Linked DNA regions of Homo sapiens. The protein of the gene in region 2 interacts with the protein of the main gene of each other region in a pairwise test. Each region holds a gene or a part of one and is shown on either strand. Other genes may lie near its edges.

The links. Proteins that work in one complex are often made in the same cells at the same time.
Region 1: the proteins of KLHL23 (region 2) and AMDHD1 interact in binary tests that used the Homo sapiens proteins (3 or more experiments, as listed by UniProt).

What each region holds. Positions count from the first base shown.
Region 1 is NC_000012.12:95,960,307-95,967,341, reverse strand, and holds part of AMDHD1 (probable imidazolonepropionase), read right to left. Parts: intron 6,945-7,035; coding exon 6,719-6,944; intron 4,988-6,718; coding exon 4,863-4,987; intron 1,657-4,862; coding exon 1,563-1,656; intron 995-1,562; coding exon 834-994; intron 1-833.
Region 2 is NC_000002.12:169,743,801-169,750,835, forward strand, and holds part of KLHL23 (kelch-like protein 23), read left to right. Parts: intron 1-5,621; coding exon 5,622-5,932; 3' UTR 5,933-7,035. Other genes in the region: PHOSPHO2-KLHL23 (kelch-like protein 23), read left to right, coding at 5,622-5,932.

The DNA of each region.
Region 1 (7,035 bases), on a different chromosome or scaffold from region 2:
GTTTGCTGCTATGTGCCCACCCAAATCTCATTTTGAATTGTAGCTTCCATAATTCCCACATTGTGGGAGGGACCCAGTGGGAGGTAATTGAATCATGGGAGTGGGTCTTTCCCATGCTGTTCTCATGATAGTGAATAAATCTCACAAGATTTGATGTTTTTATGAATGGGAGTTCCCCTGCACACGCTCTCTTGACTGCTGCCATTTAAGACATGACATTGCTCCTCCTTTGCTTTCCGCCATGATTGTGAGGCCTCCCCAGCCATGTAGAACTGTGAGTCGATTAAACCTCTTTCCTTTATAAATTACCCAGTCTCGGTATGTCTTTATTAGCAGTGTGATAACAGACTAATATTACACTGGAGGCCCAGGTGGCAACAGACTATGGGTGGGTGAGTGATAAGTCACCAGGAACAAGAAAACTAAGTTTAAGCTTTTGGGAGCCAGTCGGCATGAGAAATCAGAGAGGGAATGAATCAGAACCAAAGTGAGAAGCCAGAGTTGGGAGCAAGTTGAAAATCAGAAGCCGAGCAGAAAAACACAAACACATGCCAGAGGGCACAACCCGGCCAAAGTCCAGGTAAACAGAGCAGAAATCTGGAAATCTACGAAAAATACCAGACAGATGAAGAGATCTTGAAAACTTGGTCTACCCTGTTGTTTAGGGTCTGTCAGTAGATTTGCTCTTTGGAAAGGGATCAAGATAGAGGGGACTGGATAGTGTCTGAGTCCAGACAGAGTCTGACACTAATAATTAGTGGAAAAGGGATTTAGGCCTCATCTGCATACTTCAGTGGGCATAATATAAAAGAGCTAAGTTGAAGCACACTCACCGGGATGAATTGATGATAATGAGATCTCCCTGTTTGCCAACTTCCAACGATCCGTGTGTGTGAGACTTTCCCAGTGCATAAGCTGCATTGATGGTGGCAGCGGCCAAGGCCTCAGGCATGGACATTCTCATGTTTACACAGGCCAGATGCATGACCATTGGCTAAGGCAGGAAGAGAAAAGTGTTGGAGGAAAGTGACATATGGCAACTGCAATTTAAAACATTTCTCAACACAGCACAACAAATAGAGGCAGTTAAAGGTATAGGAGGAATTGGCTCAGTTGCAATGGGAAAAATCTAAGTTTATACATAAAGATTCTTAGACTTTGGAAAAGATTACTTTATTATAGGGATTGCGTATTTAATATTTATTGACAACTTTTCAAGACCACTTACTGCACACAATGAAGTTCACTTCCATACTTACTAAGACCTCTTGGAGTTTATGCTATTCTCTGGAGAAAGGAAATGGGTTACTGTAAAACTACAATACTCAAAGCTGAATCAGAAAATAATGCATGTAGAAGCTTCTCTCCTCTCTCTATGCCTGCAGGCATTTATGTGGGACAGAAAAATCCAATTACACTGCTGTCTACCCCTTTTTTTCTTGTTTCACAGAAAAATATTTTTAGATTTTTTATACTGTTTTAAAAGCTAGTGAAATATTTTTAAATTATTTATATGCTTGGTAGATACTCTGCTCAGAAAGGTACATGAAAAAAATAATTACCATTGAAAAGCAATATGCATTGGGGTTGAAATCACTTCCCAGAGCAACTATTACTCCTTCATCTAACATCTTCCTGGCTCGAGGTTGTTTCAGTCTAAGGGGAGGAAAAAAATATGTCAGTCTCTAGAATGGGAGCTTTTGTAGAATAGCTGTTCAGAACAGAAGAGAACTTGAGACAGTCAACGCCTTCATATTCTGGAAGAAGAAGCAGAAACTCAAGATTAAATGATTAGTGGTAGAGTTACATATATAATCCAAGGACTCCTGATTTTTATCATTCTGCTTTTGCAGTTACTTAGATATGACTAACATTTAATTAATGATTGTTTATCTCATCCATCTTTTTACATATTAAGGCATTCTTGCAAAGGGAGGAAAATATAACTTACAAATGGTTTTGGAATTTAATAAGCTTTTTGGTGACTCCCAAATTAAATAATAAATGAGGTTACACTATGCTTTTTTTTTTTTTTTTTTTTTTGAGATGGAATCTCTGTCTCTTGCCCAGGCTGGAGTGCAGTGGCACGATCTCGGCTCACTCCAACTTCTACCTTCTGGGTTCAAGCGATTCTCCTGCCTCAGCCTCCCGAGTAGTTGGGACTACAGGCACCCACCACCACGCCCAGGTAATTTTTATATTTTTAGTAGAGATGGGGTTTCACCATGGTGGCCAGGCTGGTCTCAAACTCCTGACCTCAGGTGATCCACCCACCTTGGCCTCCCAAAGTGCTGGGATTACAGGCATGAGCCACTGTGCCCAGCCACAATATGCTATTTTTATTAGTTTCCATTTTGCAATTTCCTATTCACATCTCTCCCTTTGCCCTCTTTTTTTTTTTTTTTTTTTTTTTGCCTCAAACATCTCTGTAGGTCCTTTAAAATCTTGAAGGCCCAAGAATTTAGTGTGTAAAATGTTTATACTTCTTCCTGGATTAGGCATCCCCTTGACCTCCCTGGTGAAATATTCTTTATTCTTTAAGACATATCTCAAAAGTGTTACATCAAAAATAAACAAAGCCTAAAAGCTCGTTAAAGCAATGAGGACAGATTTAATTTGGGAATAACAGCTGCAATAGAGAAAGAGTCCAGCAGAGATAATTCTCATCCTAGAGTCACTCCCAGTCTATGATCGATCATTTGTAGGACCACTTAAAATGTTTTTCAACAACGTATGAGAGGAGGTGAGTGAAGCAGAGACAGAGAGTGAGGAAAGGGTACAGCTTCAAATGTCCCTGCAAGTCATTTGAATGGCCCTCCCCCCCTTCCATAAATACTTAGGGGTAAAAGAGGAAAAAGTGAGGCTGTAAAAGTATTAGGGCACTCCATAAAAACCAAGGTGAATATTTCCTGAATACATTTAAATATTACATGCAAATTTACATAAAATACATGATTAAAGCAAGCCCTTAAGTAGCATAAGGCAATGGTTATTCTGGAAATGAGAGTCAAGAGAGGGTTCAGGGGAGAGCAGGGGGCCCTGCTGGTCTCTCCTGATGCAGAGATCAGAAAAATATAGAAACGAGAAGCCAGAAAGCAGAGTGTGGCCTTCACTTCGACTGCCCCTGTGGTCCTAATAGGAGGCTAAACCTGTCTGTGGCAATGGCAGATGACAGCCTCCGCTGGTATAGGAACAAAGTTCAGACTTTTAATGCTGAATTGCCCTCCAGTACCACAAAGTCTTAGGCTTTTGCTCCATGTCAAGAGATTCAAGACTAGTTAAAGAAAGGCCTTTTTTTTTTTTTTTTTTAAGATGGAATCTCACTCACTCTGTTGCCCAGGCTGAAGTGCAGAGGTATGATCTTGGCTCCCTGCAACCTCTCCCTCCTGGGTTCAAGGGATTCTCCTGCCTCAGCCTCCCGAGTAGTTGGGACTACAGGCGCGCGCCACCATGCCCAGCTAAATTTGTATTTTAATAGAGACGGAGTTCAACCATGTTGGCCAGTCTGGTCTTGAACTCTTGGCCTCAAGTGATCTGCCCACCTCGGCTTCCCAAAAGTACTGGGATTACAGGCGTGAGCCACTGTGCCCAGCCGAAGAAAGCCTTTTCTTTCCAAAAAAATAAAAAACAAAAAACTTATTTCTTGGGTGGTGGAGACAAATATTGATTGATGACTTAGACTGATGACACTTGAAATGTATAAGACGTTGGTCATACCAAGAACCGTTATTGATATTTCCTGATTATAGTCTACATTGTGTTTACTCTTTAAGAGAATAGTAATAATAATAAAAATGTATAATATCATACATGTGCATATAAAATCATAGTAGATTTGAGAAAAGCACTGAAGTATTCCTTTCTTCGCCCTTCTAAAAGTTACTTGGAGCCTGGTCTTACCTAACCTCAGTACAATTCATGTCTTGGGCTGGATAATTCTTTGTTTTGGGAGCTGTTCTGTGCAATGAGGACTGTTTAGCAGCAACCCTGGCCTCTACCCACTAGATGCCAGTAGCATCCCCTAGTTGTGACAACTAGAAATGTCTCGAGACATTGCCAAATGTCCCCTGAGGGACAAAATTACCCTGGGGTTGAGAACCACTGTCTTAACTGCAGAATCACTCCCCATGAAAAAGACCACATGTCCTAGCTACACAGAAAGCACCTAGTCCTAAGAGAAGATAAACTTCCTCTTGACTGCTGGCCTCCCAGACCACAATCTTGGATATCATATAAGTAAGTGGTACAATGGGAAGTGTCAGAAGACCTCAGATCTCATATTGGTTAGAATCAGAGCAACAGTAATAACAGACGAACTAAGTATATTCAATTCATAGACAGCATACAGCAAAATATCTGGGGAGATTTTATAAAATATATGTCTCCTCTTTCCTCCCACCCCCAGGATTTATAAAGATTTATGGCAATTATGGTACCCACTAACATCCCTTTAGAAAACAGCTCATGCAGATTCTGAATACTGCTAAATATCTTTAACATCTTATGCATATATTTAAAAGTATAGCACCTATTTCATTATTTACTAATTATAAAAGTAATGCATAGTAATTCTTTTTAATTGAAAAATTCCAAAATCCATGAAAAAAAAGAAAAAGAAAAAGAAAGCACCATCTTCCTCAATAATCCTGCCACTCAAAGGCAATCTGGGTCTAAGTTCCTTCCTCAGAGAAATTCGTTTACGAACATCAGTCCAGGGTTGGCATCTTCATTAGCTGAGTTTTCTTCATCTGCATTTTTAAGGGATTTGTAAGGGCAATGAAATAATGTCTGGGCACTTTGGACGTCTGTGTCTTCACAGCTTGTACTTGCAGCTCTTGGTCTGGGGTGAGAAACGACCTTACCTCAGCATGTAGGCTGTGGTGGGCAGAAGGATGGCAGAGCACCTGGCCGTTGCCATGGCAACGATGCCTTCATCACTCACTTCTTCCAGGTGGCTGATTGCCTGCGCTCCCAGTTCAGCCCCAAGCTAAGGAGAATGGGCAGAGAGGGAAAGATTTAACAAATAGCAACAACGAATCCATGAAGTTCCATTAAATTGCTTTGTTTGTTTTATTTTTGAGACGGAGTCTTGCTCTGTAGCCAGGCTGGGTGCAGTAGTGCAATCTCAGCTCACTGCAACCTCCGCCTCCTGGGTTCAAGCAATTCTCCCACCTCAGCCTCCCGAGCAGCTAGGGCCACAGGCGTGTGCCACCATGCCCAGCTAACTTTTGTATTTTTAGTAGAGATGGGGTTTCACCATGTTGGCCAGGATAGTCTGGATCTCTTGACCTCGTGATCCGCCTGCCTCGGACTCCAAAAGTGCTAGGATTACAGGCGTGAGCCACCGAGCATGGCCTAAATTGTTTTTCCCATAAAGAGAAACAGCGTTTTATTATTAAGATTTCTTGCCAACCAACCGTTGTAAGCCCAATCCCCCAAATGGGTAAAGGGTTTGTAATGGGCACTCATTTGAAAATTAGCTAGTGGGCTACTTCAAAAACTATTCTTAAACACAAATCCTTCAGACATTTTCTGAAACAGAAAACTTTATGAATCTTATGGATCAGAGGTGAGATAAGGGGATCTAGAGCTATTTGGGAGAATTGGGAGGAATTGGTGTTTGCATGAAATGCGGTAGGTGAGGGAGAGGCAGCAGTCAAAATGATATCCAAGATTTTGACTTAAGCGACAGACAGGTGATGGCGTCATTTACTGAAGCAGAAAATGGGACAAGACTTGGAAGAAATACGAAGAGATCAAGCTGGATATAAGCCAGTTAAGAGGCATGCAGGTGGGGTATCTATGTCTGTATTTATGCCCCAAGGGCTTGTTTATTTAGGTCTCAGGCTTTAGAGGAGAGAAGCCTAGACTCATGATTGTAGGGACTTTGTCTTACTGCTGATTTCTCAATGCCTAAAACAGTGCCTGGCACACAGTATTCATTCAAATATTTGTTGAAAGGATGAATAAGTGAATTAATTTGAGCAAAGATATATGGATTTGAAAATCATCTTGTGGCTATTTTTGGTGTGCTCCACTAAAATGATTTGGATGCTGCCACAGAAAGATCTGAAAAGGTACAAGTGAAATTAATATACTGTGCTAGTGTGGCTTTGTGTGCCAAGCAAAATACTTTAGAAATTTAGTAAAAGAGATCACTGAGGTAATTCTTTTTCTTTTCTTTCCTTTTTTTTTTTGAGATGGAGTCTTGCTCTGTCCCCCAGGCTGGAGTGCAGTGGCATGATCTCGGCTCACTGCAACCTGTGCCTCCCAGTTCAAGCAATTCTCCTGCCTCAGCCTCCCGAGTAGCTGGGATTACAGGCGCGTGCCACCACGCTAATTTTTTATATTTTTAGTAGATATGGGGTTTCACCGTGTTAGCCAGGCTGGTCTCAAACTCCTGACCTCGTGATCAACCCACCTCGGCCTCCCAAAGTGCTGGGATTACAGGTGTGAGCTACCGCGCCCAGCCAATTCTTTTGCTATTAATACTAATATCACCAGTGGATGATAATGAAAGTAAATCATCAGCAAAAAAGTAAGTTTTTAATAGAGGTCAGGGTTTTCAAGTCTCAACCAGACCAATCTGTACATTGTTCAAACAAATTTCCCCATTCAATATCTTTTCAGAGGGCTTTGAAGAAACTAATTAAGTTTCCCATAGCATGAATGTGCAAGAATGAATGTTGACGAGGGAAAAACTAAAAGTCAACCACACCTCAGCAGCCTTCATCGGGTGGAGTTCATCCCCATGGAAGTTAATCTGTAACCCTATATCTTTTCCACGTTGAAGAATCCTTCTGGTGGAATCGAGATCAAAGACACCTTTCTCACAAAATACGTCTATATTGTCCACGTGTATTTCCCCATTTCTGCCAAGTTCCTTCAGCTTTGGGAGGTGGTTATTGATGATGTCATCAGCAGCTTCAGTAGCAGTTTTTCCTCTGGGGAAGAAAATGAGATTGCCATGGGCAAATATTAAAAACAAAACACAAAAAGACAGGGTAATCTGGCACTTGAAGAACCTGAGGAGCA
Region 2 (7,035 bases):
TTGCTCAGCTAGTCTGTTAAATCCTTAAGCTCTTGAAGGCTGTGCATCTGCATCCACTGAATTATAGCAAGGTTTGTTTCTTAAGGATTTTAGCAGTACCTCCTGAGGAATTAAAATGTCATCCTTGAGTTGACTTCATAGAGATACATTGCTTACACTGAGAAGAAATGACTACTATTATTTTTTAAAGATAATATAAGTATTATATTTTATCTTAACCCCTTTAATGGGGTAGTTTGTGTAATTGGAAAACATGGGACTATAGTTGCATTGAATTCAAGGTGACATTTATTGAGACCCTACATTGGAAAAGGTAGGATTCTGATAATTATGTAAGATGATTAAGTGTTAGTCTTTACTGCCGTAGGAGCTCAGAATCCAGGAGCAAATATACATACATAATGGAAATACAGGACAGTCTCTGCTAAGTTCTGTAAAAACAAGTGCTATTGAAATTGAGAATAAAAAGAGTGTAAGTCTAATTAAGGGAAATCTGACTATCTTAGAATGCTTCCAACGGTAGGTGGTTATGAGCTGGGCCTTAAAGAATGGCCCCAAATAAGGAAGGTAGTTTTTGAGGAAGGGTTTTTCTGGCAAGAAGTCAGCCCAGTGGAGGAAGGTGGAAAGGAAAGTTTCAGGTGTATTCCATTACCTGGGAGCAGACATGAATGAATGGAATGTAAGAGGGTAGAATGGGAGATCGGATGGGAGAGTTCAGTTGGAGAGCATGTCATGGAGAGCTTTGAATGGCAGTCTGGGTAATTTTTTTTTTTTTTGAGATGGAGTCTTGCTGTGTTGCCCAGGCTGGAGTGCAGTGGTGTGATCTCGGCTAACCGCAACATCCGCATCCCAGGTTCAAGGTATTCTCCTGCCTCAACGTCCCAAGTAGCTGAGATTACAGGCGCTGCTACTTTGCCCGGCTAATTTTTCATATTTTTAGTAGAGATGGGGTTTCACCGTGTTAGCCAGGCTGGTCTCAAACTCCTGACCTTGTGATTCACCTTCCTCAGCCTCCCAAAGTGCTGGGATTACAGGCTTGAGCCACCACAACCAGCTCAGTCTGGGTAATTTTTAAAATGCAGAATCATAAAGGTTTTCGAGCAAGAGAATGATGTGTGATCAGCTCTAGGTTTTTGTTTTTTGTTTTTTTTTTTTTAAAGACAGTCTCGCTCTGTTGCTTAGGCTGGAGTGCAGTGGCACAATCTTGGGTTCAGCGATTCTTGTGTCTCAGCCTCCCAGGTAGCTGGGATTACAGGCATGCACCACCACGCCTGGCTAATTTTTGTATTTTTTTTTAGTAGAGACGGGGTTTCACTATGTTGGCCAGGCTGGTCTTGAACTCCTGGCCTAAAGTCATCCACCCGCCTCAGCCTCCCAAAGCACTGGGCCACTGCACCTGGCCCAGCTCTGGTTTTAAGAAGAGAACTCTTGGCTGGGCGCGGTGGCTCACGCCTGTAATCCCTGCACTTTGGGAGGCCAAGGTGGGCGGATCATGAGGTCAGGAGATCGAGACCATCCTGGCTAACATGGTGAAACCCCATCTCTACTAAAAATACAAAAAAATTAGCTGGGCATGGTGGCGGGCACCTGTAGTCCTAGCTACTCGGGAGGCTGAGCCAGGAGAATGGTGTGAACCCGGGAGGCAGAGCTTGCAGTGAGCTGAAGATCGTGCCCCTGCACTCCAGCCTGGGTGACAGAGTGAGACTCCGTCTCAAAAAAAAAAAAAAAAAAAAAAAAAAGGAAGAGAACTCCTTTTAGGTAGATTGGGAGAAAGACAGCAAGGGGATCTACTAACACTATTGTGTTTAACCAAGGGAGAAATGCTGAAAGCCTGAAGAAGTGGTAGGAGTAGAAAAGAGGGGCCGATGTGAGGAATGTCATAGATTCAACAGCTGATTGCTTCCTTGGCTGACAGCATACAGGAGATGAAGGAGAGAAAGGAGTTGACAGTCGTCTCAGGGTCTCTGGCCGGTTGTCTGAGAGAATGAGGTATACTGAAGGAGAAGCTGACAGGAAGGGAGAAGAGGGGAGATGATGAGCTCGATTTTATAGTTTAGAGCAAAGGAATCATTGGATAACCCAAAAGAGCTGTCCAGCAGGCAAAGGGAAATGTGGGTTTGCAGCTGAGAAGGAGGGAGGTAGCTGAATGTAGAGATCTGGGGATTGTTTGCTTGGATGGTGGCTCTGGGTATGGGGATGAATAAGATGCCTTGGTAGGGTGGGACCAGCAATACAGCTATGGGCAGAATCCTAGGAAACGGGCAGAGTTGAGGGATAAGCTGAGGAACAAGAGGGTGTGAAGAGCCGAGAGGAAGCAGTATGTGATAAAGGAGGACCTGTGGAGAGTTGTGTGAAGTGGGGAGAGAACTTTCCTGGCCCTGCCATTTATTTACCTGCCTTGCCATCGGCAAGTAGACTAAGCTCTTGGGCCTTACCTTCCAGTGAAATCAGAAAGTTAGACTACATAAACTTTACAGGCTCTTCAATGAGAAAAGATCTTAGGAAAAAAAATTGAAATCAATTCAAATGGATATTGTGGTTTTCTCTGAATCCCTCTAGCTGTTTGTTCATATCACTCATCTAACACTGAATACAGACTGCTGTGTGTTGATGTTTTATACTTCTGTGTAAACTTTTGAGCCGTGACAGATGGTGTCACTCCCATTCTTGATTATTCATTTGTTCACTCATTCATGTCTAACATATCTGCTGTGTGCATCCTACATGCTGCTATATACTCAGTGCTAGGAGCACAGTGAGCAAGGCACAGTCCCAGAGCCTCAGTGGCTTAGAGGGGTTAACTAACAAGAAAAAACGCAATTACAGCTCAGGAAGAAAAAGTTCCTATCCACAACAATAGAACATGTGTTGTATTTGAGTAAAAGAGAAAAAATGATTAGGAATCACTTTACTTAAATATTTTTACTGCTATAGGAAGACAGATGGCTTTCTTAACATATGAATCAAAAATTGGGGTGTTTTGATAAACTTCAAGTAATTTAAGAAAAGCCTAGTGAGTGATGTTGAATCACTTTTACCAACTGATAAAATATTTGAACTATCATTTTCACAATAACCATTAGTTGAATGATTCATATAATTGATATAAGCAGTGTTTCACAAGTACTTGAAACAAGTAAATCCTATAAAAATTCAACATATAAATAACTGGAAAGTAAAAAATGAGTTTTTAACAAGTAGGATAATTATTTTCTTGGATGTCAGTAACGAGAAAAATATGTGGAAATGAAGCAAAAATGCAATCTTCTAAGACTTTCCTTAGCTGTCAAAACCTAGGGAGGGCCAGGCACGGTGGCTCACGCCTGTAATCTCAGTGCATTATTTGAGTCCAGGAGTTCAAGACTAGCACCTGGGCAACATGGCAAAACCCCATCTCTATTAAAAATACAAAAATTAGCCAGGCATGGTGGTGCGCACCCGTAATCTCAGCTACAGTGCACACCTGTAATCTTGGCTACTTGGGTGGCTGAAGCATAAGAATCACTTGAACCCGGGAAGCAGAGGTTGCAGTGAGCCGAGATTGCGCCACTGCACTCCAGCCTGGGAGACAGAGCGAGACTCTGTCTCTAAAAAAAAAAAAAAAAAAACTGAGGGAGAACTTTACTGGTAAGAAGTTGTCTTCCACTCCTAAAGAGGAAATCACTTTTTTTTTTTTTTTTTTTAAGAGACAGGGTCTCACCGTGTTGCCCAGACTAGCCTTGAAGTCCTGGGCTCAAGCAATCCTCCAGCCTCAGCCTCCCCAGTAGCTAGGATTACAGGTGTGCACCACCACATTCATCTGGAAATCGCATTTCTGATTGTATTATTCTTTCTAAAGAGGGGCTTGCTTATAAGCTTTCCTTCTACGTTATAATGTGAGGACACATTGGGACACAAGCGTACAAAGTACAATTCATTCATTATTCAACACATATTTATCGAATTCTCACAAGGTGCCAGACAGTTGCCATTCTCCAATTAGGAATAGGTTAGTGAGCAGGACACAGTTCCTGTGCTGCCAGGAGGGAGAGAGAGACGATAAGAAACACACCTGGCTCACACCTGTAAGCCCTGCACTTTGAGAGGCTGAGGCAGAGGAGGATCTCTTGAGGCCAGGAGTTGTAGACCAGCCTGGGCAACAAAGGGAGACCCCATCTCTACAAAAATACAAAAATTAGCCAGTTGTGATGATGTGTACCTATAGTCCCAGCTTCTTGAGAGGCTGAGATGGGAGGATTACTTGAGCCCAGGAATTTGAGGCTATATTGAGCTATGATTGTGCCATTGCACTCCAACCTGGGTGACAGAGCAAGACCCTGTCTCTAGGAAAGAAAAGAAAAGAAACATTCCAGATAATGAGAAGTGCTATGGAGAGAATTAAAATAGGATGATGTGGTAGAGACGCCTGCCTGGCCACTTCAGGCTGGGTGGTCAGGGAATGCCCTTTGAAGAGGTGAGAGTAAGACAAGACCGGAATGACAGGAAGGACGCAGCTGTGCAGAGACCTGGGGAGAGGAGAGACTTCAAGGCAGAAGGAACAGCTCAGCGATAGTGCGCTAAATCTTTCCTTGCTTTAATTTGAATGCACTGACAAATCCTCCTCTTCCTTTGGGGCTCCAGCGAAAGGTTTTTAAGTGTAATTTTATGACTGATATTCCCAGAGAGTGAACTGACAGGCTAGGAGTGACGATAAAAGCGGGTGTGTGGAAGAAAACAGGGCAGAGACCAGGATGAGGCAAATGAGATGCTTCAGGCACAAAATGTAAGGCCATGCAGTGCAAATGACTCACAGAGTTCTGCCTCCCTGCATTTTGCACCCTAAGCACTTCGCTAGCCTCACTCTTGTCACAGCCCTGGGAAGAAGGGAGAAGTAGAGTTGTGAGATATGCTGGTGCTTTGAAGATCCAGCAGGTTTGGGTGTAGAGGGGGAGATAAAATGGAAAACATTAAAACAGCCTAGGAGGAGGACCGCCCCCCCCCCCCCCCATATACATACTTCCAGCCCCAGGACCCGGATCCCACACAGCAGCCCTCCGCCTGGGGGCACCCTTCACAGCTTCTCAGGATGATAGACTGTCATGCCCCACGAGTCTGGGTACGTTTCTTTAGCTTCTTGAGTTCATAACTGGACTGGCAGTGTGAGAAGCACACAAGGCCACCCTGTGTGGCACCTGTGACAGCAGGCATGCCAGATTGCCTGCCATTGGTTAAGGAGACAGCTGCCAAGACCTGAAGGGACACCACTGCTTATCGAGGGTATCTTTCTATAAGGATTCTACTGCTACCATCTTTTACAGATAGGTGTCAAGTAAAAGTTGTCTGTGTTGGGAAATTCCCAGAAAGGTGATCTGTTGGGTGAGTTCCTCCCTGGCCTCCTACAGAGCCAGCTAAGGACAAGCTGAAGGATAATGGCAGCATGGCAGGAACAGGCGATCTGAATTAGGTGACAGGGAATGATTTTCAGCCTCAGCGTTGCAGTATTGTGTGCCTGAATCAAAATACCACCACTCCCTATTTTTTGTGTGCTAAATTTTAAAGGATTATTACATTACCACACTGTGGAATCTCTTTTGTTTGTTATCCTTTAAAAAAATGCTGTTTTCTTTTTTTCTTTTTAAAAGAATATGGATTGTGCTCAGTTCCGTTTGAAAATAAGCTCTATCTAGTCGGCGGACAAACTACAATCACAGAATGCTATGACCCTGAACAAAATGAATGGAGAGAGATAGCTCCCATGATGGAAAGGAGGATGGAGTGCGGTGCCGTCATCATGAATGGATGTATTTATGTCACTGGAGGATACTCCTACTCAAAGGGAACGTATCTTCAGAGCATTGAGAAATATGATCCAGATCTTAATAAGTGGGAAATAGTGGGTAATCTTCCCAGTGCCATGCGGTCTCATGGGTGTGTTTGTGTGTATAATGTCTAATTGAATCTGCAGAAATGACCAAGCAATCACTTTTTTGGAGTATAGTTTTATAAAAAAAGAATGCAGGGTTTGAAGTTCCTTACCTGATAATTGTGTCTGGCACATGATAGGGGATCAGTAAATTGTAATTCCTAACCCTACTGTACTCCCAAACATGGTGATTCATGGTCAAGAAAAATCTTATATATATATATATATACACACACACATATATGTGTTCATATATATGTATACATATATATGTGTATATATACGTATGTATACATATATGTGTATATATACGTATGTATGTATACATATGTGTATATATAGTATGTATGTATACATGTATGTGTATATATACGTATGTATGTATACATATATGTGTATACATATATATGTGTGTATATATATACACATATATACGTATATATGTGTATATATATACACAGTTGAATCAGTGGGATTAATACCTATAATCTCTGGTTTTCAAAGGTAATATAGAATATTTGACACTTGGTAAAAGGTGAACTACCTTTGTAGTGAATCTTTTCCTCTTGGTAGCATCAACACTGGGGATAAATCAGAACCATTCTGTGGAATGAAATGTTTCTCAAGAGCCTATAATATAGTAGATAGTGCATATTAAGATGTCTGGCTGGGCATGGTGGCTCATGCCTGTAATCCCAGCACTTTGGGAGGCTGAGGCGGGAGGATCACTTGAGCCTAGAAGTTGGAGACTAACCTGGCGAGACCCTGTCTCAAAAAAAAAAAAAAATCAATTTAGCTAGCAGGAATTTGACATTTAAAGAGGGAATCTTCTCTACCTCTACAAAATCAACCCTTAACACTTTTTTCACCTTCAGAATTATTTAGAATGTGGATTTACTTTGTCTAGTTTTTTCCTTTATAGTGTAATTTATTGTTACTCTCTATTTACTGACTACCAGAGATATACAAAATACTGTGCAAAAGATTGTTACTGTTCAAAGAGCTTACAAACTAAATTTAAAAGAATAGCAAGTCTGAAAAATAGAAGATAGTCAAATATTTGTTTATGCTAAGAACTGTTTTTAATTTTCAGCTTTGATGTAAATTGCTAGCTTAGTTGTCTTTAGTTCAAG